7 separate regions of the Homo sapiens genome follow, and all the other regions are reported to be linked to region 1. The links are microRNA targets in miRTarBase. Many come from high-throughput screens and were not tested one by one. Region 1 holds a microRNA gene; each other region holds the end of a gene's coding sequence.
What was found. Region 1 holds the annotated microRNA hsa-miR-4755-3p (AGCCAGGCUCUGAAGGGAAAGU, at 2,969-2,990, opposite strand). A microRNA usually pairs through its seed, bases 2 to 8, with sites in the 3' UTR of a target mRNA and lowers its output. Matches are read on the target gene's strand: a 7mer-m8 pairs with bases 2 to 8, a 7mer-A1 pairs with bases 2 to 7 and ends in A, and an 8mer does both.

Region 2: miRTarBase lists GLTP as a target of hsa-miR-4755-3p. Seed matches in the 3' UTR shown: 7mer-m8 at 2,441-2,447.
Region 3: the mRNA of LRG1 is a reported target of hsa-miR-4755-3p. Seed matches in the 3' UTR shown: 7mer-m8 at 1,816-1,822.
Region 4: the mRNA of ZNF35 is a reported target of hsa-miR-4755-3p. The part of its 3' UTR that is shown has no 7-base or 8-base seed match.
Region 5: the mRNA of TJAP1 is a reported target of hsa-miR-4755-3p. Seed matches in the 3' UTR shown: 8mer at 1,295-1,302 and 7mer-m8 at 1,417-1,423.
Region 6: miRTarBase lists CRTC2 as a target of hsa-miR-4755-3p. Seed matches in the 3' UTR shown: 7mer-A1 at 2,771-2,777.
Region 7: the mRNA of DNPEP is a reported target of hsa-miR-4755-3p. Seed matches in the 3' UTR shown: 7mer-m8 at 465-471 and 7mer-m8 at 2,034-2,040.

What each region holds. Positions count from the first base shown.
Region 1 is chr20:34,047,869-34,052,151 of GRCh38, reverse strand. MIR4755 (microRNA 4755) reads right to left here and starts at 3,033; the gene lies at 2,962-3,033. The region is part of intron 2 of RALY (RALY heterogeneous nuclear ribonucleoprotein); the gene reads right to left.
Region 2 is chr12:109,849,615-109,853,897 of GRCh38, forward strand. It overlaps GLTP (glycolipid transfer protein), which reads right to left. Exons shown (of 5, transcript NM_016433.4): 5 at 1,331-3,123. The coding sequence ends at 2,941. Among named protein-coding and RNA genes, the nearest start is that of TRPV4, 18 kb to the left of the region's middle.
Region 3 is chr19:4,534,886-4,539,168 of GRCh38, forward strand. It overlaps LRG1 (leucine rich alpha-2-glycoprotein 1), which reads right to left. Exons shown (of 2, transcript NM_052972.3): 2 at 1,517-4,066. The coding sequence ends at 3,055. PLIN5 (perilipin 5) reads right to left here and starts at 339. Exons shown (of 8, transcript NM_001013706.3): 1 at 280-339. RefSeq lists an enhancer at 1-45.
Region 4 is chr3:44,658,940-44,663,222 of GRCh38, reverse strand. It overlaps ZNF35 (zinc finger protein 35), which reads right to left. Exons shown (of 4, transcript NM_003420.4): 4 at 2,432-4,283. The coding sequence ends at 3,276. It overlaps ZKSCAN7-AS1 (ZKSCAN7 ZNF cluster antisense RNA 1), which reads left to right. Exons shown (of 3, transcript NR_157564.1): 2 at 1,837-1,961. Among named protein-coding and RNA genes, the nearest start is that of ZNF35, 12 kb to the right of the region's middle.
Region 5 is chr6:43,505,033-43,509,315 of GRCh38, forward strand. It overlaps TJAP1 (tight junction associated protein 1), which reads left to right. Exons shown (of 11, transcript NM_001350562.2): 11 at 1-1,522. The coding sequence ends at 823. It overlaps LRRC73 (leucine rich repeat containing 73), which reads right to left. Exons shown (of 6, transcript NM_001012974.4): 2 at 3,728-3,888; 3 at 3,266-3,388; 4 at 2,794-2,894; 5 at 2,424-2,646; 6 at 1,936-2,276. The coding sequence ends at 2,206. Among named protein-coding and RNA genes, the nearest start is that of LRRC73, 3.2 kb to the right of the region's middle.
Region 6 is chr1:153,945,267-153,949,549 of GRCh38, forward strand. CRTC2 (CREB regulated transcription coactivator 2) reads right to left here. Exons shown (of 14, transcript NM_181715.3): 12 at 3,849-4,118; 13 at 3,192-3,378; 14 at 2,409-3,063. The coding sequence ends at 2,843. DENND4B (DENN domain containing 4B) reads right to left here and starts at 1,452. Exons shown (of 28, transcript NM_014856.3): 1 at 1,035-1,452. RefSeq lists enhancers at 124-173, 642-1,142, 1,954-2,023 and a silencer at 664-1,563.
Region 7 is chr2:219,370,330-219,374,612 of GRCh38, reverse strand. It overlaps DNPEP (aspartyl aminopeptidase), which reads left to right. Exons shown (of 15, transcript NM_012100.4): 15 at 271-2,570. The coding sequence ends at 321. Among named protein-coding and RNA genes, the nearest start is that of DNPEP, 15 kb to the left of the region's middle.

The DNA of each region.
Region 1 (4,283 bases):
ATGTTTCCCAAATTATTAACATCTCTTCTGAGGAAGACACAATTTGAGGAAGACACACTGGGACAGATCTCTAGGGTCCCTGTCAGCTCTAACCTACTGTGATTTGCATCAGGAGTACTTAGCCAGTGCCTGGAGCACCCTGCTTCCCTTCTTATCCAGTTCTCTTAACCTAGTGAGGCATTTAAATGATACTCTGGTTAATGAGAATTTATTATATGTAGTCCATTTTACTGTAGTGAAAGTATCAGGCTGGGCGCAGTGGCTCACGCCTGTAATCCCAGCACTTTGGGAGGCCAAGGCACCTGGATCACGAGGTCAGGAGATGGAGACCATCCTGGCAAACACGGTGAAAACCCGTCTCTACTAAACAACAACAACAACAAAAAAAATTAGCCAGGTGTGGTGGCAGGCGCCTGTAGCCCCAGCTACTGGGGAGGCTGAGGCAGGAGAATGGCATGAACCCAGGGGGCGGAGCTTGCAGTGAGCGGAGATCACGCCACTGCACTCCAGCCTGGGCAACAGAGCGAGACTCTGTCTCAAAAACAAAAAAAAAGTATCAAATTTCAAAGACTCAGAGTGCAATATACTGAAAACGCTATCCTATGAGATAGGATACCTGCAGTTACTAAGCTCCTAACACATGTTCTGTACTGTGCTAGCATTTTCCATTAATTATATCATTAAATCCATACACAACCATAAGGAGTAGACATTGTTATCCTCGTATTACAGAGAAGGAAACTGAGCTCAGAGAGGCCAAGTAACTTGCCAAAGGTCACACAACTAGAAAGTGGCGAGCACCAGATTTCAAACCCAGGAGTACTCATTTTCCAAATCTTGGTTCTGTTTTGGGCTCTGCCACCATGACTATCAGATGGTCCCTAACTCTCTTTAAAGCTTCCTGGGCCTTAGTTTCCTCAACTGTCAAGTGGGAATAGTAATCCTTACACTGCTTCCCTCACAGAGTTGCTCTAAGGTTCAAAAGCAGTAACACGTATGAAAGGGGTCTGTAATATATAAAGATGTGAATATTAGGGGCATTTGAAACATCATGAATAAACGTTGCTATTTCTGTTCATGAATTTTAAGCTGTTTGTTCTTGCAAGGTTCCCAGTCATCCCTTCCCAAATAGTGCTCCTTAAAATTTTCATCAGGATTTTGAATAAACAGGAAATATGTCCATTTCTCTCAGTATTGATTACTCTCTAGGCTGTCTGACAGACTCACACTAAATTGCCAATCTGCTTCTTAGGAGTCAGGAGTGAAAACATCAGAGTGGGTGAGAGCCTGGTGGGAGGCCTGTGAGCTGGGAGTTATCTGAATAGAGATAGCATACTGGCTGTGGGGCTAGACTCCTCACCATCATCTTGGAACATGGCTGGGAAATAGGTCCAAAGGGTCATTTGGACAGCAGATCCCAGCAGCCTCTGTATGAGATCTGTCCAGGAGACTAACCCCATTATATGGGATGGCAAGAGGGGGAGGTGACTGGAAATGAGAAATGGGACCAGGCTGACCAGCTACACTCTCAGATAGAGACTACCCTGACAAGGGCCTAGGCACAGACACAGAAGTAGTTGGGTGCAGGGCTCTCAATTCATCCTTCAACCCTGCCTGATATCACATCCTCATAACCCACATTGCTGTGGCCATCTGCTCCCTCTAGTTTCTGGCAGATTAAGGCCAAAAACAACAGCAAAGCATTTTTGGATCAAGGTCCTGCCTGGGGACAGAGAAGTAAATAATACAAGTCCCTGTTCTTAAGTAAGGCACTAGACCAAGACGGTTTGAGCCTAACTAGAGGCTCTCTTGCATAGCAAAGTCTCTGGCACATGGGTTATATTCAAGAATTGTTTGAACCGAACTGAATCAAAGGAACCTACATTCTGCAAGTTAAGAGCACCTGTTTGGTGTCAGGAGCCCAAGACTTCTAGATTCAATCCTGGTTCTGACATGTACAATTCAGGGACTCTGGACCTCAGTTTGCCCATCTGTAAAGTGCACTTTGTCTACCCCACAAGTTGCTATGAGTAGCCAATGAAGTAGTGGCTCAGTAAATGGCACTCTGTAAATGGCATGAGATGGAACAGCAGGAGCTGATGGGAGCACGGGCGCACATGATCTTAAAAGTTTAGAGTCCAGCCTGAAGAAGACCTGAAATAAGCTCCTTTCTTTCTCCCCAGTCAGCTTAGATCTGCTTTTCAAACACAGCAGACATTCTCTGCATTTCTGGTGACTGTGAAAAGGGGAAGGGGATAATTTGCCACTAAGTAGGGGATAGAAAGAAAGGTTGCCATCTTTATACTTTTCAAAATAAGAGCACGGGATTTGGATTTATAATCCTAACTTTTGTTAATCAAAAGCTGTGAAACTATGAACAAGCCTCAACCTCTCTCAGTTTCCTCATCTGTACATTGTGGGGAAATTTCCTAAGTCATAAGATTGCAGTTAAGGTTCAATGAATTAATGATGTCAAAAGTGTTTTGAAATCCACAAAATGCCAAACAAACGCCAATCATTACAAAGTTGTCTGTCTTCTCATCAGTTTACCAGCTACATAGGACAGTGGTTATTTACCATTTGACAGGTGAGATCATCAAAGCCCAGAGAAAGTGCTTAAAGTAACACACAGCTCAATTCTGACTTCTTACAGCAGAGGTAACTGTTCCTTTACTACAGGGGTTCTTAATTAGCCTGCTTGCCTCATTAAACTGACAGATCTCTGAGGGAGGGGACTACATACATCTTACACATTTTTGTACCCCAGTGCCCATCATGGCACACCTAAAAGATGTGAAGTGTTACTAGAATGATGACTAACATATTGGTAGCAGAAACATATCTAGAACTCAGGACTCCTAATCCCAGATCCAGGGTTCTTTACAACCATACAGTGGCCCAAACCTCATAGACTCGGCTTGCCTTAACATCTCATCTCTTCCTCAATTCTCCACTCTAGCAAGATTCAACTTTCCCTTCAGAGCCTGGCTTTCATAGATGCCAAAGCCAGGCTCTGAAGGGAAAGCTGAATCTGGCTTTCATAGATGCCAGTTCCTCAGCCATAACCTTCCTCATCTCTCCTTGCTGAGCTAATTCCTATCCATCTCTCAGACTTGGAGGCCTTTCTAATCTCTCCTAATACTGGGTCAGGTATTTACTTTCCTCCATGGCTGTTTTGTTTATCACAGAGTCCTGGCACACAGAATGTGTTAAAAGTATCTGTTGAAGGCTGAATGAATGAAACACTGGGTGTAGAAATCCAAAGGTGATGCAGAGAAAATTTTTTTTTTTTTTTTTTGAGACGGAGTCTCGCTGTCTCCCAGGCTAGAGTGCAGTGGTGCGATCTCGGCTCACTGCAAGCTCTGCCTCCAGGGTTCACGCCATTCTCCTGCCTCAGCTTCCCGAGTAGCTGGGACTACAGGCGCCCGCCACCACGCCCGGCTAATTTTTTGTATTTTTAGTGGAGATGGAGTTTCACCGTGTTAGCCAGGATGGTCTTGATCTCCTGACCTCGTGATCCACCTGCCTCAGCCTCCCAAAGTGCTGGGATTACAGGCGTGAGCCACCACGCCCGGCCGCAGAGAAAATATTCTTGACCTGGAAGTCATGCAGCCTGACTGATTCTAATTCTAACTCCACTACTAATGCGTTTCGTGATCTTGAGCAAGTCCCAGTTCTTCTTTGGACCATCTATAAATGAGTTACACAGTATGATCTCAGAAGGTCCCTCCATTGTTAAAAGCATATGAGACTTAGACTCATGTGAAGTCCTAGGGATGAGGAGATTCCAAAGCCAGCTATATGCTCCATAGCATAGGAGACCCAACACTCTCATCCCCCCAGGAGCACGAGAGACACACGACTCTGCTGTCAGGAGCCTCCCAGCCCATTGGTTTACTTAATTCCTCTTGATGAAGTGCCAAGAATAAATCGTAGGTGAGCAGCAGAGCATTTTAACGAGTCCAGAGCCTAATGAATCTTTTCCTTCCTGTGTCAATTAGAATTTCAAAGCTAGGATCCCCAAGGACCAATTTATTGGGAACAGAGAGAAGAAGCCTTTTGTTCATCAGCAGCTGCCTGAGCTACCTGCTCTGCTCCTGTATCTCTGCTGTGTAACAATCCTGCTTACTCAGATATAACATCTGGCACAATAAAGCCTGGCCTGGAGGCTCCTTCTTGCCCAACATTTCTGGGGTCTGAACTTGAGGAAGGAAACAAGGGTCCAGGGTATTTCTGAGGGCAAAGGTGGGGTTGGGGGTTGGTCAGGGAATCAGAGCAGTGCT
Region 2 (4,283 bases), not on the chromosome of region 1:
GGCTCCAGGTTCCCTCTGGGAACTGACCACTCTATTTCATCATTATTGATTTACCGGTCCATCTTGCCCACTAGATTATAAGCTCTATAGGAGCAGGAACAAAATAAAATAAATATTTCCCTCTACATTTAACCCTAGAATAAGAAAAAACAACAGCCCATGAAAAAGTGCAAACTGGTCCGGGGTGGGGAGGCAACAGGGATGGGTGGAGACTAAGGCAAAGTGAAGAACTGATTCCCCTTTCCCTTGCCCTGCCCAGCCAAGGGGGCAGTCGTCTCTCAGCTCCCACCAGGCAGCCTGGTTTTTCAAAAGAAGCTAGAAACCCAAGGTTCTTTTCTTAATTATACGTTACATAGGTATACACGTGCCATGGTAGTTTGCTGCACCTATCAACCCGTCATCTAGGTTTTAAGCCCTGTATGCATTAGGTATTTGTCCTAATGCTCTCCTTCCCCTTACCCACCACCCCTGACAGGCCCCAGTGTGTGTTGTTCCCCTTCCTGTGTCCATGTGTTCTCGTTGTTCAACTCCCACTTATGAGTGACAACATGCAGTGTTTGGTTTTCTGTTCCTGTGTTAGTTTGCTGAGAATGATGGCTTCCAGCTTTATCCATGTCCCTGCAAAGGACATGAACTCATTCTTTTTTATGGCTACAGAAACCCAAGATTTTTTTTTTTTTTTTTTTTTTTTTTTTTTTTTTTTGAGATGGAGTCTCGCTCTTATCAGCCAGGCTGGAGTGCAATGGTGCGATCTTGGCTCACTGCAAGCTCTGCCTCCTGGTTCCAAGCAATTCTCCTGCCTCAGCCTCTGAAGTAGCTGGGTTTACAGGCACCCGCCACCACACCTGGCTAATTTTTGTATTTTTAGTAGAGATGGGGTTTTACCATGTTGGCCAGGCTGGTCTCGAACTCCTGACATCAAGTGATCCACCCACCTCGGCCTCCCAAAATGCTGGGATTACAGAAGTGAGCCACTGCACCCTGCCGAAACCCAAGATTCTTATGTGAAATTCCCGTTTCTCCATGCAGCAACCAGTTCTGTTTTTTAAGACCACGGAGGCCAGGCCTGGTGCAGTGGCTCATGCCTGTAATCCCAACCCTTTGGGAGGCTGAGGCAAGAGGATTGCTTGAGGCCAGGAGATTGAGACCAGCCTGGGCAACATAGCAAGACCCCAATCTCTACAAAAACATTTAAAAATAATAGATAAATAAAATTTTAAAACCATGGACGCCAGAAAATACATTCTTGGTAGGATTTGTAAGGGTCCCCAGTTGTAATTTCTGATGCAGGAAAGAAAAAAAAATCAAGAACCAATACAGTGCACAGATGTGATTCCAAAATAGAGATTTATTTATTAAGGATTATTTAGTTTCTGCATAAAAATCTCCAATTGTTCCTCATTGGGTTTTTTCTTTTAAAACACACATCAACTCTTTTGGGGTTGCTTTGTTTGCCCCAGCACTTTAAAAAATACAGCTCTTTTTAGCGCCAGGAAGAACAGTTAAGGTTAAGGCAGTGAGGCGTTTTCTTGGATCTTAGCAGCTGAAGGGTTCATCTCTCCCCGTCAAGAGAATACACACGGTAGGTAGTTTCTTAGGTTGGAAAATCTGTCCCTGAAGGAAATAATTCTGCAGAAGAATGCAAACGGAGTCATCTATGGTCAATTGTTTGTGCCCTATAGCTTTGAAAGAAACGCCTCTTGGTCATCAAGGGCTTGCTGGTTGGTTTCAGCTGTAAAACAACAACAACAACAACAAAAAACAACCAGAAAAAAGAAAACAAACAAAAAAATCTGTCTAGCGAGACAGAAAGAGCAGGGTTTACAATAGTGCTGTGAGGCTGGGCTGTGCAAACCACATGAGAATACACACCAGTTTGCTTTTTAAAAAATCCCACATAGGGGCCCTGCATAATTTTAAATCAAACTCTTTATAGTCCTTAAAATAACAATACAGCGAGAGCCTCATAAGGTCACGTGCTTTTTTTTCTTTTTTTTCTTTTTTGAGACAGAGTTTCGCTTTTGTTGCCCAGGCTGGAATGCAGTGGCGCGATCTCGGCTACTGTAACCTCCACCTCCCAGTTTCTAGCGATTCTCCTGCCTCAGCCTCCCAAGAAGATGGGATTACAGGCGTGCGCTACCATGCCTGGCTAATTCTATATTTTTAGTAGAGATAGGGTTTCACCATGTTGGTCAGGCTGATCTCAAACCCTGACCTCAAGTAATCCACCCACCTCTTTTTTTTTTTTTTGAGACAGAGTTTCGCTCTTGTTGCCCAGGCTGGAGTGCAATGGTGCGATCTCAGCTCACTGCAACCTCCACCTCCCGGGTTCAAGCGATTCTCCTGCCTCAGCCTCCTGAGTAGCTGGAACTACAGGCGTGCGCCACCATGCCCAGCTAATTTTTTATATTTTTAGTAGCGATGGGGTTTCACCATGTTGGCCAGGCTGGTCTCAAACTCCCGACCTCAGGTGATCCACCCGCCTCAGCCTCCCAAAGTGCTGGGATTACAGGCGTGAGCCACGGTGCCCAGCCATCATGTGCTTATTTTTAAAGCGAGGTGGATGACACCATTCCCCCAGAGCTGTGTTCCTCGTTGGCAACAAAACAAAACCAAAAAACCCTAGGACTTGACTCATTAGAAGTGTTAATCGGTTTTTACCACGCTGAAATGAAGGTATAAAGTCAGTCTGTGCTGTCGTGAAATTCCAAGGAGATTTGGAAGTAAGATCATTATTTACTGGTCCTTTAGAATAGACCAAAAAAAAAAAAAAAAAAGACTTAAAAAACGAGGGCTGTCCCCTGCAGACTCTGGCAGGACCCTGGGCTGCTCTGGGGGACACAGGCCAGGGGCAGTTCACCGACTTGATTCACAGTGATTCTGGTTTGCCTGTTTCTCCATGTGGCCACGAGTCGGGGACGTGTCCAGCAGTGGGCATGCCTACACCTTGTAGTTAAGCTCAGCGTTCATCTGGGTGTACATCTCGTAGATGACATCGATGGTCGCCGTGTAGTTGACTAGGAAGAGGCGGATCTTCTCCAGGCACTCCTCCTCCGTAACATTCTGCCCCTTGGAGAGCGCTTTCAGGAAGTCAGACTTATAGGGTGCTGCGTACAGTGCTGCCTTGAGACAGGCAAGAAGGGAGGTAGGCACAGCGTTAGCGGGGGCTGAGGAGCCAGGCCAGCAGGCCAGGGTTCTGGGAGGGGTCTTCCCTGGGTCTGTGCTGGACAGGGGGTTGTGCTATTTGAGGTGTTGGAAGGGAAAGGAAAAGGGAGGTGTATTTTGAGCGACAGCAGGAAGGACATCAGCTTTCGGGACAGACAAGCCTAGATGCAAATGCCAGTCTGGGCCATCAACTAGCTGTGAGCCTTGAGCAAGTCAGTTAGCCTCTCTGAGCTTCAGCTTCCTCATCTGCAAAATGGGGATAATGGCTGCCACCTAATCGGGTTGCTTTTATAAGGATTAGGGGGCTTGTACAAAGTGCTCAGCACAGCACCAGGCATACAGTAGGCACTCAGCACAACACCAGGCACACAGTAGGTGTTCAGCATGGGTGAGTCTCTTCCCTCTGGGTTCCCTGCTCCAGAAAAGGTGAACTGCTCCTTCGGAAAACCCACTTTCTGAGTTGGGGAGACGACTGCTAAATATGCTGTAGTCTCTCTTTTGTCCTTAGGGGGGCGATACTTCCCTAAATTTCAGAGCTGCTCCCATACTTGAAAAGTACAGAGAATTCAAAATTCACAGAATTTCAGAGCCAGAAGAAAAAAGGTACAACTAGATAAAAAGCTTAGGCTAGCCAAGCACGGTGGCTCATGCCTGTAATCCCAGCACTTTGGGAGGCCGAGGTGGGCAGATCACAAGATCAGGAGTTCGAGACCAGCCTGGCCAATATGATAAAACTCCATCTCTACTAAAAATACAAAAATTAGCCAGGTGTGGTGGCTGGCATCTGTAGTCCCACTACTCGGGAGGCTGAGGCAGGAGAATTGCTTGAACCCGGGAGGCAGAGGTTGCAGTGAGCTGAGATCACGCCACTGCACTGCAGCCTGGGTGACAGAGCGAGACTCCGTTTCAAAAAAAAAAAAAAAGTTTAGGCCATGAGTTTGATAGGATGAGGAAAGTATAAATATTATTTAAAAAATTTTTTTAGACATAGTCTCACTCTGTCCTCCAGGCTGGAGTCAGTGGCGTGATCTTGGTTCACTGCAACCTCCGCTTACTGGGTTCAAGTGATTCTCCTGCCTCAACCTCCCGAGTAGCTGGGACTACAGGTGCCCGCCACC
Region 3 (4,283 bases), not on the chromosome of region 1:
CAAGGTCACGCAGCCAGCTAGAGTTACAGGGGGGGAGCTCGACCTCGGGCCTCAGACCTGCCGCCTGCGATCCCTCCGGTTGCCACCCCGCGTCCTCTGAGGCCTGGTCCTCGCCCAACTGGGTCCTGAGCTGGGGCCAACCGGGCCAAGGGTCCCAGCCACCTGCTCTGGCCGGTCATACCCGTCCCACGCCGCCGGACCTTCGCCCAACCACCCTATCTGGAGCTCCTCTCCTAAGCCCGGGGGGGCGCTCCCGGACGCCGCCCTCAGGGCACTCACCTGGGCGCGAGCGGCTTCAGACACCAGCTGTCTCCGCCGACCCCAGGCTCGAGTCTCCACACCCCCGCCGGTCCCGCCCGCCCTTCTTATAGCTGCTCGCGCAGTGGGGGCCTCCGGAACTGACCAATGGGGAGAGGCCGTGCGGGGGCGTGCCCAGGGGGCGTGGCTCCAGGCTTCCCTCGCCCTCTCCTTGAGCTGGCCCAGTGCCCTACGGTTGCCATAGTAATTCGGGAGCGCTAGATTCAAAAGATTGAGCTATTATACGTTCCCGGACCAAGTTTGGCCACCTGTCATCCTCACTGCTGTTGCCATAGAGACAGTCCATGCGATCACAGCCCCCATAGCCCTGCTGAGTGACCTTGGCCAACTCGCTGATGACTTTTCTTATTAATTATTATTATTTATCGATTTTTGAGACTGGGTCTTGCTCGGTTGCCCAGGGCTAGAGTGCAGTGGTGTGATCATAGCTCACTGCAGCCTTGCCCTCCCAGGCTGAGGTGATCCTCCCGCCTCAGTCTCCTAAGTAGCTGGGACCACAGGCACACACCACCACCCCCAGCTAACTTTTTAAACTTTTTGTAGAGACGAGATGTCCCTGTGTTGACCAGGCTTGTCTTCAACCCCTGAGCCCCAAGTGATCCTTCCACCTCAGCCTTCCAAATTGCTGGGATTACAGGTGTGAGCCATTGCACCCAGCCTCTTTTTATTTCTTAATCTGCCCCTTAACTAAGCCAGAAGCCAGGCCTTCCCTTTCCCTAGGATCCCCATTTCACAGATGAGCAAGCTGAGGCTCAGAGATCATAAAACACTTGCCCCGCATACCACAGCAAGTGAGGGATCCTATTCCTTTTTTTTCTTTTTTTTTTTTTGAGACAGAGTCTGACTCTGTCGCCCAGGCTGGAGTGCAGTGGCGCGATCTTGACACACTGCAACCTCCGCCCCCTGGGTTCAAGTGATTCTCCTGCCTCGGCCTCCGGAGTAGCTGGGATTACAGGCGCCTGCCACCACACCTAGCTAATTTTTGTATTTTTAGTAGAGACGGGGTGTCACCATATTCGTCAGGCTGGTCTTGGACTCCTGACCTCGTGATTTGCCTGCCTTGGCCTCCCAAAGTACTAGGATTACAGGCATGAGCCACCGTGCCCGGCCAGGGATCCTATTCAAACCCAGCCCTGCTGGACCTCAGAACCCTGCCTTTTCATTGCCTTGCCTGGAATGACCACAGATGTAGGCATGGTCTTTTTATTTTTATTTTTATTTTTGAGACACAGTTTCACTCTGTCGCCCAGCCTGGAGTGCAGTGGCGTGATCTTGGCTCACTGCAACCTCCGCCTCCCAGGTTCAAGTGATTCTCCTGCCTGACCCTCCCAAGTAGCTGGTATTACAGGCACGTGCCACTGTGCCTGGCTAATTTTTGTATTTTTAGTAGAGACAGGGTTTTGCCATGTTGGCCAGTCTGGTCTCGAACTCCTGACCTCCGGTGATCTGCCTGCCTCAGCCTCCCAAAGTGTTTGGATTACAGGCATGAGCCACGGCGCCAGGCTGCATGGTCATTTTTTAGGGAGCTGGGAAAACTGGACATGCCCCCAAGCCCCAGGGTCTTCCAAATCCGATTGCAGCCCCCACATGGCCAATGCTGTATCAGCAGGTGGGCCCGGGACCCTGCTCATCCCTTCAGCCCCATCCTGCCCCTGCAACCTTGCCCGGGGGCAGGTGCCCCCTTCGATGATCTCAGGTCAGCATGACAAATCGTTTGGAGACCTGGGCAATCTGGTTTAACTTAAACCTTCTCCTAGGACACAAGCCCTGGCAGAAATCCACTGGTAAAATGACACCCGGGCAACAGTCAAGGTTTTATTTCCAGTTAGGTCCCAGGATGGGGGAAGGGAGAGGAGAAGTCACAGGCCATTGATCCCAACTGTCATCCCCTAGGGAGACCATATCCCACACCCCAGGGCCTGGGCCATGCCTCTTTTCCTCCTTCACCCTGGAGTCCTGGGAAGTTGATTTGAGAAGATGCTAGGAACACAATGAAAGCCAATTCATCCGATCCAGTTTTCAAGGGTTATTTATTAAACCCCTTGGTTCTGACCCCAAGCTAAGTGGGACTCAGCATCAGACCCTGCACTCAGAGAGCCCCCTGACTTGGGGAAGACAGAGTCAGAGAAAGGCAGCCCCAGTGTGGCCAGGGCTCAGCTGGAAGGAAGGACAAGGGGCTGGGAGAACCCAGAGTTCAAGAGATCTGGGAAACAGGGAACGGCATTCCAGACGGAGGGCACACCTTGGGCATGGGTAAGGAAAGCCCATCGTGTGTTCTAGGAAGCATGGATGGATGAAACGGGGTCCCAGCCGCTATGGACAGCCCCGAGTTTCACCTGTAAAAGGCAGGATTATTTGTTTTTAATTTTAATTTTAATTTTTTTGAGACAGTCTTGCTCTGTCGCCCAGGCTAGAGTGCAGTGGCACGATCTTGGCTCACCGCAAGCTCCGCCTCCCAAGTTCACGCCATTCTCCTGCCTCAGCCTCCCGAGTTGCTGGGACTACAGGTGCCCACCACCACGCCTGGCTAATTTTTTATATTTTTAGTAGAGACAGGGTTTCACCATGTTAGCCAAGATGGTCTCGATCTCCTGACCTCGTGATCCGCCCACCTGGGCCTCCCAAAGTGCTGGGATTACAGGCGTGAGCCCCCGCACCCGGCCAAAGGCAGGATTATTTGTTAAGCGGGTTGCAGTGTTCTACCAGACCCCCCACCCTCAACCCAAGCCCCTGGTCTCACTGGGACTTGGCCACTGCCAGGAGCGTCTGGCCCTTCACGGCTTCAGGCCCAGCACAGCGCGTGTCATTCTGGGAAAACATCTTGTCTTTTTGGGCCTGAAGCCAACGATAGAGGTCGCTCAGGTTCTGGTCACAGATCCAGGGGTTGCCGGAGATGTCGAAGCCATCCCGCATGTCCCAGTTTGGCTGCCCTAGGGATGCCCAGAGCCCCTCGGGCACGCTGGCCAGTGAGTTATTGGAGAGGTCCAGCATGTCCAGCTGCCGCAGGCCCTGGAAGGCACCGGCTGCCACCCTGGCCAGCTTGTTGCCGTTCAGGAAGAGGTAGCGCAGGTCCGGCTGCGGCAAGAGGAGATCTTTTCCCAGTACTTGCAATTTGTTGCCTTCTAGATGTAGCCGTTCTAATTGCAGCGGACCCCTCAGGAGGTCAGGTGGCAAGGTCTCCAACTGGTTCTCCCCAAGGTCAAGGGTGCGCAGGAGGGTGAAGTTGGCCAGCAGCCCGGGGGGCAGTTTCCGGAGGCGGTTCCCAGACAGGTCCAGATGCCCCAGAGCTTTCAGGCCGTGTAGCCACGAGACCTCCAGGACCTCCAGCTGGTTTTCTTTCAATACCAGGGTGTCCAGGGTGGCTGAGGCCTGGAAGAGGCCCGGGGGCAGCCCGGTCAGGGCGTTTCGGGTTAGATCCAGCACCCTCAGCTGCGGCACTGGCCGCAGGAATTCGGGCGAGAGGCTTTCCAGCCCATTGCTGGAGAGGTGCAATTCTTGGAGCTTAGAGGCGCCCTGGAGGAGGTTGGCTGGCAGGTGGGTCAGGTTGAAGAATTCCACGGCCAGGTGCACGGTGTCGGCTGGCAGGTAGCCGGGGATTTCGGCAGGTGGTTGACAGGAGATGGAGCTGCCATGGTCTGAGCGGAACACCTGGCAGTCTTTGGGGCTCAGGGTGACCCCCCAGGCTGAGGCTGCCAACAGCAGCAGCAGGAACAGAGTTCTAGAAACATGGGGTTGAATGCCCCCTGGGCTGCAGGCAGTAACAGAAGATGCTTACTAAACCACAGTGAAAATACACTCAGCTAGGTGAAAATACACCAGCAAATCCGCCCACTTCTTCCCATCTCTGCGGCTACCAGCCTGGACTATGCTACCTCATCTCTCACCTGTACTAGGGCAGTTGCTTCCTCCTCCTCTTCCAGCTTCTACCCTCACCCCCGACAGCTGCCAGAAGTGGCCCCTGTTCC
Region 4 (4,283 bases), not on the chromosome of region 1:
TGGTATATTCACTTAAATACAAATAAAATAAGCTAGGTGGCAGAATCCTCTAACATCCAATGGTTGGCAGAGGCACTGATGGACACCTAGTTCAGCTAGTGTAAAGTAAGTCTCCTGTTCTGCTAAAAATACATAGAATGCTTTGCACGTACAGATCCTTATACTGGAGCACCCCCACCCCCTCCACCTTTGATCACACACATTCTTGGCCTGCAGCCTTTACTTTTTGCTACAGTGGCTCATAACCTTTGCTTGTCATTGTAATCCCCTCCAGAGTTTTAAAAAATACAGAGGTCTAGAAATGGAAATTTTAAAAAAGTGCCCAATGTGATTCTAACATGAAGCCAAGGTTTAAAACCACTGCTTTACTGCAAGGTTGGGTCAGTGAATCTCAAACCTAGTTTTGCATCATAATCCCCTGCGTAGCTTTTCTGAACTACCTATGAGTGAAAATCACAATCATCCATAACTGAATATTATGAGGATAAACATATGTGATGGTAGAATGGTTTAACTGTCTTAATGGTCATAAATCCCAGCAGGTATTCTTTAAGCAAAGTAGTTTCTGTCTCTTGGTGGGTCAAGGTCACAGAGTTTTCTCAAATCTTCAGACCTGCTCTCCTGATATTCTCAGCTTCCTGATAAGGCAGGGGGAAAAAACTAACTTGTTCCTACTCTCAGCAGAGACAGGGGGTGGTTTATTTGGGTCTCTCCATTCCATCAGGGAGACTGGAACAGTCACTGTTAGGATTGGTGAGGGCATGAGTATTTGATCCTACTTTTGAATCCTTTTGATTTCTTGTATTTGTGTCTCTATGATTTAGAGTGAAACTGGGAAAGTAAGTTGCATATGTTTTGGAAAAAAAACTAGAGGAGGGAGGAAAAAGGAAATTAATAAGCTTTCTTGTGTATGCCTTCTGTATGTGAAAGTGCACTGTAGGCCAGGCATGGTGGCTCGTGCCTGTATTCCTGACACTCTGGGAAGCCGAGGCAGGTGGATCACCTGAGGTCAGGAGTTTGAGACCAGCCTGGCCAACATAGTGCAACCTCGTCTCTACTAAAAATACAAAAAAGGCTGGGCGCAGTGGCTTACTCCTGTAATCCCAGCACTTTGGGAGGCCAAGGCAGGTGGATCACGAGGTCAGGAGTTCAAGAGCAGCCTGACCAACCCCACTGCTACTAAAAATACAAAAATCAGCTGGGGGTGGTGGCGTGCACCTGTAATTTCAGCTACTCAGGAGGTCGAGGCAGGAGAATCACTTGAACCCGGGAGGCGGAGGTTGCAGTGAGCCAAGATCGTGCCACTGCACTCCAGCCTGGGCAACACAGCAAGGCTCTGTCTCAAAAAAAAAAAAAAAAAAAAATTGGCCAGGCGTGGTGGCATGCACCTGTAGTCCCAGCTACTCGGGAGACTGAGGTAAGAGAATTACTTGAACCTGGGAGGCAGAGGTTGCAGTGAGCCAAGATTGTGCCACTGCACTCCAGCCTAAGACTCCATCTCAAAAACAAAACAAAACTAACACACAAAAGAAGTGCTCTGTAAACTAGAAAACACTATGTGATTAATATTTAGTCTTGCAGAAATGTGATAATAAATGCATGGGACTTCTGCATGAGAGCTGCATCAGGCTCAGCATTTATGATAAATGCTCTTGCATGCCCTGAGGCATTGGAACAGCATGGAGGGACAGAGCCAGAAATCAGGAGACCCAAATTCTAGTCTTAGGTTTGCTGATTTCTGGTCACAGTGCCTAAGGCACACTCCAAACATCTGTCACATCAGCTTCCTCACCTGAAAAATGGGACTACACACCCCTTTCTTTGTCTCCCCTACAGGTCTGCATGGGGATTACAGGTGTTTGGCAAGTGGCATGGCAGAACAGAGAATCTAGATTCAGGACCTGGACTTGGATATAAGCTGTCACTTGTTACTTGGCCTTGCACTAAATGACCATTCTCAGGTAAATGGGCAACCACCTGTTTCAGTGTTGTAAGGACTGAGGTAGGTGATCTATGTGAAAGCGTGAGATACGTGCCAGGTATCATGATCAATACATAAGGGTACACAACAAAGAATAAAAGTTCTATATAAATACAAGGCAATATTATTACATAACTCTACCTATTGCATAGTTTTATAAATCATTTTTCCAGGAGTAAAGGCTGAATGGTAACAAAGATATCTTACCTTGGCCAGTTTCTTCATCCTTCTAAAAGTTTTTCATATTCCAATACCTCTGAATTTCTCAAAAAATCAAATTAAGACCTTAGGAATCTTATTTCCACCTCCCCTCTCCCATCACTTTCCCTCTTTGGTCTTCTCAGAATGAGAAGAGCTCCACTATTTCTTCTAAACACCATCCAGAATGTGAGAATGAAACCCAAACTGAGACCCCTGGCTGGACTTGAGCAGAATGACAGCAGAGACAACTGGGGCATGCCTCTAGGCAAGCTTTATTCTTTGACTCCTTCATCCAGGAAGGGGCTGTTAGTTGCATCTCACCCAAATGGAATGCGATGGGAATTGGGGGCTTGAGTTGTTTGGAGAAGGAGCTGTTGATCTTGGCAAATGAATATAGCTGGTGTGTGGTGTCCATCAATCCTTGAGTGCTTGGCCATGGAGACTAGGGAATGGTCAGAACAGACCCAGAGGTCCCCAGATCTTTACAATACCAAGGTTCAGGAGGTATAGACAGTAAGGAAAAAGTCCATTTCCTATTTCTGTCCATTTTCAGTAAAGTTTTTGTTTTGACTGGCTTTTAAAAAATTACCTAGGAAATGGAAAGCTTATAAACATTCGTAAGTGAATTGTTGAACTGCTACCCCAAGTGGTTTCCTTACCCAGTCACCACTTAACCAGAAATATTAGAATACACGGTTCAACCAGAATTCAACCAGGCAGATAACCTGCCTGTTGCTCAAGCAATCATCAGAGTTTTAAAAAACAAAATTAAGCAAAAAAGACCTTTCCCCAAATAGCATCATTACCACTTAGCTTTGTACGACCCATTCCTAGGAAAGCCACATTCCACTTCAGAGAACATGACCGCTTAAGGTACAGTTAAAACAAAGTCCTTGCCTTTAGGTGCTTACTTTTTGTTTTAAATTAGCCTCTGAAATGCTTTTCTTGTGTCTTCTGCTGCATTCCTGAAAACTATAACTTTTAAGGACACAGCCCTCACTTTTATAGAGGAGGAAGAAAACAGCAAAGAGGTGTCTCATTAGGGAGGCAGAAGGTTATGACCAATGCTGGAGGTCTTCCTCTTCCTTACTTGTTATTCAACAAGATGGGTTCTATGGTGTCGCATGAGGTGTGAGTTGGAAATGAAAGCTGCACCACACTTCTCACATTCATAGGGCTTCTCCCCAGTGTGGGTTCTCTGGTGCACGGTGAGGCTCGACCTCTGTCTGAAGGCCTTCCCACACTCATTACATGTGTAAGGTTTTTCTCCATTATGAATTCTCTGATGAATAAGTAGGTATGAGCTACATGTGAAGGCCTTCCCACATTCATTACACACGTAAGGAAGATCTCCACTGTGAATTCTCTGGTGGACAATAAGGCAAGAGAGCTGACTGAAGGCTTTCCCACATTCGCTGCAGTCGTAAGGTTTCTCTGCAGTGTGAATTCTCTGGTGCACAATAAGGTGTGAAAAACAACTAAAGGCTTTCCCACACTCTTTACACTCATATGGCTTCTCACCAGTATGGCTTCGCTGATGTACAATAAGATTTGCACTCTGGGTAAAGGCTTTGCCACAGTCGTTACAGGCAAAGGGCTTCTCCCCAGTGTGGATCCTCTGGTGGACAATGAGGTTTGAGCTCCTAGTAAATGTTTTCCCACATTCATTACATTCATAGCATTTTTCCGTAATGTGGACTTTCTGGTGCCGAGCAAGTTGTGAGCTGTAACTAAAGGCTTTCTCACATTCATTGCACTTAAAAGTTTTTTCTAAGGAGTGGATTTTTTGATGTACAGTCAGATTTGAACTCTGAGTGAAGGCTTTCCCACATTTTGAGCAAACATAAGGTTTCTGTCCAGTGTGGATTCTCTGATGCACAACGAGGTTTGCACTCTGAATGAAGGCCTTCCCACACTCATGACATTCAAAGGGTTTCTCTCCAGTGTGGATTCGCTGATGCACAACGAGGTTTGCACTCTGACTAAATCCTTTCCCACACACGCTACACGTAAAAGGCTTTTGTCCAAGCTGGGTTTTTGGATTTTTAACAGCGCCAGAATTAAGGCTATATTTTCCTCCAGATTTCTTACATTTCTGGTT
Region 5 (4,283 bases), not on the chromosome of region 1:
CCCACAACCCAATGGGGAGTGCCACTCTCTGGGTACTGCCAGGGGCTCCCCGGAGGAAGAGCTGCCCCTGCCAGCCTTTGAGAAGCTGAACCCCTACCCAACCCCGTCTCCACCACACCCACTGTATCCTGGCCGCAGGGTAATAGAGTTCTCTGAGGATAAGGTTCGGATCCCCCGCAACAGCCCCCTGCCCAACTGCACTTACGCTACCCGCCAGGCCATTTCCCTGAGCCTGGTAGAGGAGGGGAGTGAGCGGGCCCGCCCCAGCCCAGTGCCCAGCACCCCTGCCTCAGCCCAGGCCTCACCCCACCACCAGCCCAGCCCAGCACCCCTAACACTCAGTGCCCCAGCTAGCTCTGCCAGCTCTGAAGAGGACCTGCTGGTCAGCTGGCAGCGGGCATTTGTGGACCGTACTCCACCACCTGCTGCTGTGGCCCAGCGCACAGCCTTTGGACGCGATGCCCTCCCTGAGCTGCAGCGCCATTTTGCCCATAGCCCCGCTGACAGAGATGAGGTGGTCCAGGCACCTTCTGCCCGACCCGAAGAGAGTGAGCTTTTGCTACCCACAGAACCTGACTCTGGCTTTCCCAGGGAGGAAGAAGAGCTGAACCTGCCTATCAGTCCTGAGGAAGAGCGCCAGAGCCTGCTGCCCATTAACAGGGGCACAGAGGAGGGGCCAGGCACTTCCCACACCGAGGGCAGGGCCTGGCCACTCCCCAGCTCCAGTCGCCCCCAGCGCAGCCCCAAGAGGATGGGGGTTCACCACCTGCACCGCAAGGACAGCCTGACCCAGGCCCAGGAGCAGGGCAACCTGCTCAACTAGGGCCCCTGCTGGCCTTCCTGCCATTGCTGCACCAGGACTGCAAGGAGTCCCCACACCTTGGCAGCTCAGGGTCCCCAGTCCAAGCCCTTGACCTCTCCTCTATCCAGACCCGCACAGCTGTTTCCTGTGTGGATGGGGTCAGGTTGTGGGCCATGCCAGGCCTGTCAGCTGCGTTGACTGACTGCAGCAGCTTGCCTCATGGTTTTCCCTTTTTCTTAGAATATTTATTCTTCAGAGGTAACATGCAGTTGGGTCTCAAGACCTTTCCTCCAATCAGCCCAACCCAGCCCAGACTGGGCTTTTCTGGGGAGCTGAGGAGTTTATCAGTATTCATCTTCCATCCTTTCATAGTCACAAGTTTTGTTATTTTGTTTTTTTTTGGGGGTGATGGTGTAATTGTTAACCTCATTTCCGTTTCCTACCTGTTTGCTTCCCCCCCCAGTCCTCCGCATGAGCTGTTGCCCTCCAGGGGCCTGGCACAGCTGGCCTTGGGGACGAGGGAGAGGACTGATTCAGGGCCCCCTCAGCTGTCTCCTCCCTCCCTCTGGAAAGGAGGGTGGGGCTCAGGGGCCTCAAGCTGGGCTCTGTGTGAGGCCTGGCCCCCACTCCCAACCTTGGCTCTAGACTGTTACTCTTAAGCTTTGAGAAATTTTCACATTGATGACTATTTTAAAATCAAATAAAACTATTTTACTGGTATGGCCTAACTTGTCTTAATGACCTCCCCTCTCCCACTTTTCTCCCCATTCATAAGTATTCCCAGTCCTAGTCTCATCCTAGTCGGCTAGTGACTCCCCCTCGCCCCACTCTGCCTAGGGTTTCCCTAGGCACAGAGCATCAGGGAGCGGGAAAGGGGGCACCTTAAGTAACCTTAGCAGGGTTCCTGAGTCTTCCCTCGGAGGCAGGGACCATATCTTTATGGGGCTAGTGTAAGGTGTTGCCTCAGAGGCCTGGGTTCTAGGCCTGGCCAGGCCTATTTTGAGATCCTGGACCAGGTCACGCAGCTTAGAGCTTGGGCTGTGCGATGCTACTGCCCCCTAGTGGTGCTTACTGGTAGTTCCAATTCCTCCCCTACTGCCGGCCCCAAGTGACTACAGCCACACGACAGGTTGTGGAGTTCATAAAATCTTTTCCGAGCCAGCGGGTTGCAGCCAGAGCTGCCAAGTTCAAAGGCATTGCCGTGGGTTCAAGTGCCCCCCAAGGCTGTTGCTCAGTCACAGCTTCCAGAGCTTCCTTCCCACCACACTGCCAGGAGCTGCCAGAGCCCCCATGCAGCCCCTGACCCCAGTTCCCTCCCAAGTCCCAGGGCCTGACCCTGATATCTGGGGCAAGGTGCTCGGGACATAGATAAGTGAAATGGTGTGCAGAGGCCCAGTGGAGAGTCACATCTCGGTCTCAGCCAACAGACTGTCCCCTAGTCCTGACGTCATTAGCACCATCTGAGAGCTGGGATCTGTGGAAGGGCAGAGAAGTGTTCAGACCACCATTCCTTCCTCCAATGGGGACCACAGATAGGTGAGAGCCTAGGTTCTGCACACCCACTCTCCCTTGTCCCGAGCCTCTTCCAGACCTGGCTCTGATCAACCCTCTGGGTTCTTACCGCTGGGGCACATCCAGGAGCTGCTGCCTCTCTGGTGGGCAGCAGGCTCCCGCCCTCTCTCCCATTCCTGGGTGTCGCCAGCCCCTCCTGCCACTTCCTCCTCCTCCTCTCCCTCAGAGAGGAGGTCACAGATCTGTTGCTGCAGCTCTGGGCTAATGCTGTTCTCAGCCAACACCAGGCTCCGCAAAGCTGTGGGGTAATTTTCTACCATGTCCAGCAGGGTCTGAAGTGGGGAAGAATATGGAAAAGGATGAACACAGTTAAGGCAGGTCCTCAGACCTCAACCTGCCATGCCTTAGGTATGTCATCAGACACATAAACTAACCTCCACCCCATCCCCTGGCCGTGCCCAAACATGACGACTTCCCACCTGAGCTGACTGGTTGGTGAGCCCTGTGCCCTCCAAGTCTAGGACCTCTAGGGTACGACTAGAGGCCACAGCTACAGCCAGCATTCCTGCCACATGGTCACCTGGGGAGACAACACACGTGCACACATTCATACACATGCCTGCTAATCCTTACAGATAGCTTCCCCATTGCCTTAACAACTTTAGATACTAATCCCTGGCCAAGGAAACATGGACAATTGGTGGTGGTCAGGAAGGGATCATTGTGATTGGTGAGTGAAGGCACGAAGCAAGTTAGGCCCACGGGTGGTGACTGATGTTTTGATCTATTTGTTGGTCACCTGGTCCGCCACAAAGCTATCTCCTTGACCCCTGGGGGCTCCCGTTTCTCTTCCCTCTCCCAGTGTACGGGTTACCATGTCAACTGATGGTCCCAGGCTCTTGGATAGGGCATGAGGCAGTGACAGCCCAAGGGGGTATTCTTGAGCCTCACCCAGGGGGTTGTAATCCAGATTGAGGACGCGGACCTGGGAGCTGTGGGCCACGGCAATGGCAAGGCGGCTCCAGCCCTTAGGGGTGATGCCAGGGTTGGCACTCAGCGTTAGCTCCTTCAAGCCTGGGCAGCATCATAGCAAGAAACCAGAATAGGGAGGGTTAAGCCCTCCTCCAGCCCTTCCCCACAATCCCTGTGTCTCTGGGGTGTCCCTAGTGGCTGGGCACCACCTTACCCCCACCATAGAGGTCAAGAGCCATTAAGGAGGCCCATGCTTCCTCTGCCTGCCCCAGCCTGGATTCCTGAGTCTCCATGCTGCCCCCCGTCCTGCCCCTTCCTGAGAGGAGTAGAAAGATGTTCTCGCCCACATCATCAGAGCTCTGGGGCCACACCCCCTTCCCTCTGCATTTCGATTTTCATCACTGCCACACTAGCCCAAGCCCTCAACAGGGTCCTGCTCACCAGATTTGGCCCCATCTGGGGGCAGGAGGCCACAGATGAGGTTGATGGCTTCATCACCCAGCATGCAGTCCCCCAGGTCCAGAGCCACGAGGGCAGGGTGGAGGGCCAGGGCTGGGTTCAGCAAGGCCAGCCCCGCATCTGTCAGGGGGCTCCCATGCAGGCTGGAGGAGAGTGAGAGAGCAGGGTTACTGCAGTCCTCCGCACTATCTACATGGGAAAGGGGCACTTTCACTTCTGTCAGCCCTAGGTATGGGGAGGGCAGTCACAGCGCTTGAGAGGCCTGGAAAAGGAGAAGGAAAGTTCTAGATTCTCAGGGAATACAGATAGAGGGAGAATTCGGTTTGTTTTCTGGGGCAGGGATCCAGGACATTGCACAGGGAGGGGCAGAGAAGGGGTGGGTGGGTGGTGGACCGGAACTCTGCAGTGGGCAGGGCTCTCGTCCCCACGGGGATATTCCCCCTTGGGAACCAAGGAGCTGCCCCAGTGAAGTAAATGCAGATGATTAGGTGGGGAGGTACGGCCCCCACCTCATGTCAGGAACTGGTGGGTATCCCAA
Region 6 (4,283 bases), not on the chromosome of region 1:
GGAAGGGAGGTTACTTCCTGAAACAGTGGAGGGGAAGCTGCAACTCAGAGGAAGTCAGCCTATGGGTGTGTGTGGTGGCGGTGGCGGTGGTGGGGTTACCATTGAAGGTGCCAGCACAGCATTACGCCAAGTTGGAATCTCAGACTATAGGATCCTGAGCAAGGCAGAGGAGGCTCAGAATGGTTCCAGGATGTGCAGTCCTGCTAACCTCCTGCTGTTCCCCCAGAGAACAGGGAATAAGGAATCTCATAGAGCCAGGCTGGCTTTCTTCATCACCTGGCCTCTGGACACACACACACACACACACACGCACACACACACGCACACACGTACACACACCAACCCCAGCTAAATTTAGACTCCACTTCTGGGAGGTAAAGCCAGGAGTCAGCGTCAGCCTCTTGATTTAATTCTGGGGCACAGACCTGTCCCTCATCCACTGAGGGCGAATGGGAGCCCTATGCCCAAGGCAGCAGGCAGAGGCCATTAGGTGGGACCTTCTGAGGGGCAAGTGGGTGGCACCCATCCGCAGGACCTGCGCACCGGGGCCTCCCCTCACCAAGCCAGGGAAGAGTCCTGCAGAAAGCAGCCCTTTCTCCCTAGGGAAGACAACGGGCACAGGGCCCACTCCGGGTCCCCACGCCCGCGTGCCGGGTGACGGGAAGTTCGGGTTGGGGCAGAGGGCGCGCCGAGGGGGAGGAGGCTGAGGAAGGAGCAGGAGGGCAGAGAAGCAGGCGCGCCGGCGGCCGAGGACGTGACGGCAGCAGCGCCGGCCGCCGCGTGACCCAAGCGGGAGGGAGGGCGGCTCCGACTCCGGCACCCACGGGAGCAGAAGGGGGTGCAGGAGGCCGGGCACGGCGAGCTAATTGCGGGAGGTGCCCTCCCCTCCACTTTCACTTCCCCAGGAGAGAGGAACCGGAACCAGATGTGCAGTGAGGGACAGCAGCTGGGGGCCATCCCCCACCCCGCCTGCCGCCCGCGCTCCCTCCTGCCCGTCCCCGCCTGCCGCCCAGCCCGGTCCAGCCCCTACCTGCCTGTCCCGCGCTTCCCGGCCGGCCGGCCCGCTGGCGGGTGGCTCGGAGGGCGAGCTGGCGGGCCGGCGGGCGGCGGGGCTACCCGGCCCCAGACATGGCGCACCCGACTTGGGCGCCGCTCCCGCCCGGGCAGTGAGTGAAGGAAGAAGAGGCGGCCGAGGACCGCAGAGCGCGGGGCGCAGTGGAAGGAGATCCGGGCGGTCCCCGCGTCCCCGCCGCGCTGCGCCACGCGGGGACTGTGCTGCCGCGCTGCTCGCTCGGCCGGCTCGGTCCTCCCAGCTCCCGCGGCGCCGGGGACCCAGCGTTCCTCCGCGCGCCCCGCTTTCTCTACTCCCCCAACCCCCGCTCCGGGCCGCGGGCGCCGCCGCTACCCCCACCCCTCCTCCTCGGCCGGCGGCCGTGACCCTGGCAAGCGTCTGCCCAAAGCCCAGCCGCCTGCAGCCCGACCCCTGGCGGCTGGGAGGGCCCCCTGCACCCAGGTAGCTTCCCACCATCCAGCCCGTGCCTCAGGACACTGACCCCAGGCGACCCAGAGGGCCGCGGCGCGCTCCCTTCCCGCCTGGGTCCTGCAGTCAGATGTGGCAAGCATGATGTGGGCGCAGGTGAAGTCCCGAAGGTCTAGTCTACGGGGACCCAGGTGGCTCCCCCTACTTCCAGGTTTAGGGCACAGGGCATTCCCTTTGGACCAGAACCAGAAGCTCTCAGTTCTCTTTTTTGAAAATGACAAGAGCTTTGGAAAGAGGAAGAGAGGCCAGGACTGCAGGGTGTGGAATAGAGCAGTGGAGGTGGGGGTAAGGTAACTGCGGGGCTCTACTTTTCTCACTATGCGGGTTGGGGGAGTGAGGGGTGCAGAGGCCCACACGGCTGGTCCAAGGGCTGGCAACCCAATCCAGAAAGAGAAAACCTTCAGAACATGCATGGCACTGAAGGATCTGTTTAATTAAAACTAAAATGAATGAGTGGTGAAGAGTGGAGAGGGTGAAGTGAATGCATGCATAGTGAGGGAGTGAGGATGAAGGCTTGCTTCCCTGAGACCTAGGAGCACTTCAGACCTGTGGGCTCAGCCAGCAATCACCTCCTTACCCGACTCACTGCCAGACCTAGGGTTGAGGAAGAGGAATAACTTGTCTGATCAGTCAAAGCCCCCATCTGATGCTGCAGCAGGGCCCTGGACAGACAGGAGGGCACATGAAGTGATTTCCTGCTGCCGTGGAAGCCTACATCCAGCTGGGTACAAATTCCGAGGCTGTGGGGCCCTTCCACAAAGCACAGTGGTGCTAAGAAGATGCAAAAAGCCTAATAGATAAAAAGACCCATGGCCCTATAACTCCCTAGATCCCCAGCCATGCCCCAAATAACTAACCACACCAAGGGTTTGATATGATTTTTTTATTAACATATAATAATATATTTAATAAAAAATAGTATCCACTCTGGCTCTCTCCTCCACTGCAAGGGGAAGAGTGGTGAGGAGGGGCTGGCACTGCCCACCCCTAGGCATCCGGAAAAGCCCTGCTTCCAGGGCTCCCCTCTACCCCTGCTTTCCAACAGGCTCTGACCTCCAGACAGACGGTTCAAAGTTACAAGTGCTTTAGGCCCTCCCTTGAGTTCCCCCAGGCCCATCCCTTGCGCAGAATTCAGGGGCCACCTGGACAAACCCCTTGCTTTTTCTCATTCTTGGCATCCTTCATTCATGCTAGAAAGAGGATCTGGGGACAGAGAGTAGAGTCTCTACCTGCCAGGGGGAAGGGAGGAAAGGAATGGTGGTGGGGGATGGGGCCAAGAAGAGGGATGGTGATGAGGTGCCCTCATTGGAGCCGGTCACTGCGGAATGACTCCTCCACAGCAGGATCAGGCAGCAGGGCACAGGGGTCACTCAGCATGTTTAGCCCTTCCAGGCCCAGTGGCTCCATGCGCAGCTCATCTTCTAGCCCAAGCCCTAGCTCCAATCCAGCTGCTGACACCTCAAAGCCAGGCACTCCGGCCAGGGCTGCTGCAATCTCCTTAGAGAAACCTGGAGAGGAGTCCCCTGTGGGTAGAAGAGACAGGTGAGGACCCCATGTCCTGTAAACTTTTCCAAGACCCCTCAATCTCCTACTCATTAGTGAATGTGTCACTTCCTCCTTCCATTTCCCATCACCACCCACCCCCATTCACCTGTGAGGATGATGTTAGGCCCTGAGCCATGGCGGGAACAGTGGGTCAAGTTCTGGTGGTTGAAGGTGTGGGGATCCTGGGGGCCACCCATTGGCCCCTCACCCCCTAAAAATCCAGGCCCTTCAGAAAAGCCAGGGGGATCCAGCACCAGGCTGGCTGATGGGCTCTCCATGCTGAACTGCTCCAGCTATAGACATACAGACAAATCTTTAGGAAGTAGGATTTAGAACTGGTGTCCTGCCTAGCCCTGCTAACATATCCCCTTTGCCCAGCAACCTTCATCCACCCCAGGAACAGAGGCAATGACAGAGGGAGGTGGCAGCAAGCAGAGCGACAGAAGCGAGCACGGGGCCCGAAGTAAGTATGGGCACCGTACCTGCTGGGCCAGAGCATGTGCATGCCAGGAAGAGAACGGGTCAAGGCAGAAGTCATCAAAGAGCAAGCTGAGCAGAAATAGAGGGGCAGGAGTAGGGTCAAACGCAGGAAGAGAGGAGCCCCAAGCTGGCAGTGCTATGTTACCTCCGGGGAGAGGAGATCTCCCCACCACCCACCCCACCTAGATCTCCCCATTCACAGTGCACCAGCCATGCCATTCAGGCCCCATTGACCCACCCTCACCCACTCCCCTGCTTTTGAGCAAGGAGCCTGAGTACTCACATTCCCCAGGTTGAAGTCACTCATTGGCCGGTGGTAAGACTGTTGCCCATGCCCACTGGGCCCAGGTGGGTACGGTGTCCCATAATGAGACTGCCTGCCTGGGGGCTGCCCACCTGAGGACTGCACTGAACAAGACTGAGAGGGCAGCCCTGGCTGCTGTAGAGACTTTGGGGTGTGGGGCTGGGTAGGCAGAACCAGACTTGGGGAGCTGTATGGGTATGGGGGTAACCGCTGGTCAGTGGACAGTTTACTGGTATCCAGGGGGACGCCCTGAAAAGAAGTAAAAAGAGGGAAGCTTACTGCTCAGTGTATACCCCAAGAACTCTCAGTCAGAGCTTCCCACCTTCTTTAGCTACAACCATTCCCAAAACAAACATGACAACATTCCACATTCTCACGGGCATCCCTGGGGTTGAGTGCAGTTACTCAACCCCA
Region 7 (4,283 bases), not on the chromosome of region 1:
ACATGGCAAGTCCATGTCTCTACAAAAGAGAAAAAAGAGATAAAACAACGGTCCTTATTCTTCTCAAGGCTCAGGGGCCCTGACCCAAAGAAATGGAAAATGAGGGGATGGGAAGAGGGGATCAGGGCTGAGAAGACTGGGGTGGCTGTCAAGAACAGATGAAACCTCGGTGCTTCTCTTGCTGGAACATATGTTGGTGGGAGGTGGGTGGCAGGACATCTCCATCTGGTCACTCACTAATTCCAAACTCCATGTTGCCTCCCATTATAGGGCTTCTTTGAGCTGTTCCCTTCTCTAAGCCATAATCTCTTAGTGGATTGAGCCCTCTTGGAAAGACTTCTCTGCCATCCCTTTGCACCTGAGAGGGGAAGTTCTCAGCTGAGCTGAAGCTGGATTATTAAAGTGGATTGTCACTCAGACTCTCCGTGCTACGCTTATTTGGAGACTAGAGGAGTGGGAGTTGAGCCTGGCTTGAACCTTTGGAACCAGAAAAGTTGGGGAGCAGGTGGAGGAGGCCACACTCCTGGGAGCTGATGGTTTTAAATCTGGTTTTAAATCTCTTCTCTGTCTCAAGTCCATGTCTGAAGTGGGTGAAGGGTGGACTGGATCCTCAAGCAGAAGGTCACTTCTCCCACCCCTAGTCCTCCACCTGGGAAATGGCCTCAACGGTCTTCCCTCTTTCCATCCCCAGAATGGGTGTCCCGCTCTGCCTTCAGAGATCCTGTTCTGCACTGGGCCACCTTCAGAGCTGCTCTGGGCAGACAAAGCTGTTTCTCACCCTCCCAAAATCCCTTCCCATCCCCTCTCAGGAGCTGCAAAGAGAAGGGCACAGTCTATACCTTATCACCCTTCATCATCCACTTCTCAGCAGTCCCTGGTATTACTTGATTGTGAACATATTATCAGGAAAAAAGATTATCATTGAAAAAATTGGAAAAGTCAAAGTCTGGCCGGGTGCAGCGGCTCACATCTGTATTCCCAGCATTTTGGGAGGCCAAGGCAGGTGGATCACTTGAGGTCAGAGTTCAAGACCAGCCTTGCCAACATGGTGAAACCCATCTCTACTTAAAAAAAAATACAAAAAAATTAGCCAGGCATGGTGGCACACACCTGTAATCTCAGCTATTCAGGAGACTGAGGCAGGAGAATAGCTTGAACCAAGGAGGCGTAGGTTGCAGTGAGCTGAGATGGAGCCACCACACTCCAGCCTGGGCAACAGAGCAAGGCTCTGTCTCAGAGAAAAAAGGCCAGGCGTGATGGGTCATGCCTGTAGTCCCAGCACTTTAGGAGGCTGAGGTGGGCGGATCACCTGAGGTCGGGAGTTCAAGACCAGCCTGACCAACATGGAGAAACCCTGTCCCTGCTAAAAATACAAAATTAGCCGGGCGTGGTGGCACATGCCTGTAATCTCAGCCACTCCGGAGGCTGAGGCAGGAGAATCGCTTGAACCCAGGAGGCGGAGGTTGTGGTGAGCCAAGATCCTGCCATTGCACTCTAGCCTGGGCAACAAGGGTGAAACTCTCTCAAAAAAAAAAAAAGAAAAAGAAAAAGTCAAAGCCTGCTTATAAACCAACCTCCTTCCTTCCACTAAAATAATTGTGCAAACTGGTGTCCTTCCAATCTTTTTGATACCTATATAAAAGTTTATTTCCATATAAATATTCCACTTCAGCTTTCTAAAAAACTTAATATAATATAGAGATATTTCTATATCAATACATATAAATTTAATTTAGCAATGGCAAAAAGTTAGAATTCATCTAAAGATTTCTCAGTAAAGGCAAGCCCAAATACACTATGAAATGTCCATTATAGGTAGCTATTGAGAAAAAGATAAATTGTATAGTGTGTGTACTAACATGAAGAGATTACAAAGACATTGTTGAGTAGAAAAGGCAGGTTGCAGAACTGGACACAGGACAAGGAGTACCTTCAAAACATTATATGGCCAGGCACGGTGGCTTATGCCTGTAATCCCAGCACTTTGGGAGGCCGAGGTGGGCAGATCACTTGAGGTCAGGAGTTCAAAACCAGCCTGGCCAACATGGTGAAAACCTCTCTACTAAAAATACAAAAAAAATTAGCCATGCGTGGTGGTGGGTGCCTGTAATCCCAGCTACTCGGGAGGCTGAGGCAGGAGAATAGCTTGAGCCAGGGAGGCAGAGGCTGCAGTGAGCCAAGATTGAGCCACTGCACTCCAGCCTGGGCGACAGAGCCAGACTCCGTCTCAAAAAAAAAATTATTATATATTTTTATGTGTATATAAATATGCACGTAGATGTATACATGTATAGAAAAAGCCTGGAAAAATGCACCTGAAACTTTTACAGTGATCTTCTGGGTTGGGAGTGACAAAAGGGCCTTAGCCTTTTTGTAATGGTTTCCTTTTGTATAACAGAATGTACCATGTATTACTTATGTAAAAAATTTTACCCTCACACTGTATTTACTCTTACAATTGGCGTACAGTATTTTATTGTATAGATGGTCATTATTTATTCAGTCTGTTAATAATGGTCATTTAAGTTTTTCTCCAGTTGACAACTCTAAATAACATTGAGATAAATGTACATATATCATTGTACATTTGCCTTGGTTTTTCCCATGGGATAAATTCTAGAAAATGCCAGCTGAACTATAGTGACAGCAGACCAGTGGTTGCTTGAATGTCAAGGATTGAGAGAGAGTTTGGTTGCAAAAGGGTGCAAGAAAACTTTTAAGAGGGTGATAGAAATGTTACCCCAGAGGTGGAAGAAAATCCACATATAAATGGACCTGTGCAGTTCAAATTCATCCACTTACATGTGGATTTGTCCCAATAAAAGTTATACCGGCCAGGTGCGGTGGCTCACACCTGTAATCCCAGCACTTTGGGAGGCTGAGGTGGGCGGATCATGAGGTCAGGAATTCGAGACCAGCCTGGCCAACATGGTGAAACCCCATCTCTACTAAAAATACAAAATTTAGCAGGTTGTGGTGGTGGGCGCCTGTAATCCCAGCTACTTGGGAGGCTGAGGCAACAGAACTGCTTGAACCTGGGAGGCGGGGGTTGCAGTGAGCGGAGATCGCACCACTGCACTCCAGCCTGGGCAACAGAGCAAGACTCCGTCTTGGAAAAAAAAAAAAGTTATACCAAGTATGCCTGGCTCTCCTGAACCCCCACCCCTGCTACCCCCTATTCTACCTCCTCCGCCTCTTCTCCCACTGTTGCCCCAACCAACCCTTCTCTTCCTCCTCCTTGGCCTACTCAACATGAAGACGACAAAGATGAAGACTTTATGATGATCCACTTCCACTTAATGAATAGTAAATACATTCTCTCCCCCCCCCACCTTTTTTTTTTTTTTCAGACAGTGTCTTGCTCTGTTGCCCAGGCTAGAGTGCAGTAGCAAGATCTTGGCTTAGTGCAACCTTCACCTCCCAGGTTCAAGCGATCCTCCCACTCAGCCTCCTGAATAGCTGGGACTACAGGTGCCCACCACCATACCCAGCTAATTTTTTAATTTTTTAAAGAGACAGGGTCTCACTACATTTCCCAGGATGGTCTTAAACTCCTGGCCTAAGCATTCCTCCTGCCTCAGCATCCCAAAGTACTGGGATTACAGGCATAACATTTTCTTTTCTCTAGCTTATTTTATTGTAAGAATACAGTGTGTAATACATAGAATATACTTCATATGTGGTAATCTGTTTATGTCATCAGTAAAGCTTCTGGTCAACAGTAATTAAGTTTACAGGGAGTTAAAAGTTATACATGAAGGCTGGGTGCAGTGGCTCATGCCTGTAATCCCAGCACTTTGGGAGGCCGGGGTGGGCGTGTCACCTGAGGTTCGGAGTTTGAGACCAGCCTGACCAACATGGAGGAACCCTGTCTCTACTAAAAATACAAAATTAGCCGGGCATGGTGGCACATGCCTGTAATCCCAGCTACTCGGGAGGCTGAGGCAGAAGAATCACTTGAACCCGGGAGGCAGAGGTTGTGGTGAGACAAGATTGTGCCATTGCACTGCAGCCTGGGCAACAAAAGCGAAACTCCATCTCAAAAAAAAAAAAAATTGGGGTATTATTTCCATATAATAAATTATACACTTAAAGTGTAAAATTCTATGAATTTTGACAGATATACCATATACACCTGGGAAACCACCACCACAATCAAGATACAGAACCTTTCCATCATCCTCTTGTACCCCTTTGCAATCAATCTCTCTCTCCACTCCTGACGTCCAAGCAACCATTGATCTGCTTTCTGTCACTATAGATTAGTTTACCTTTTTTAGAAT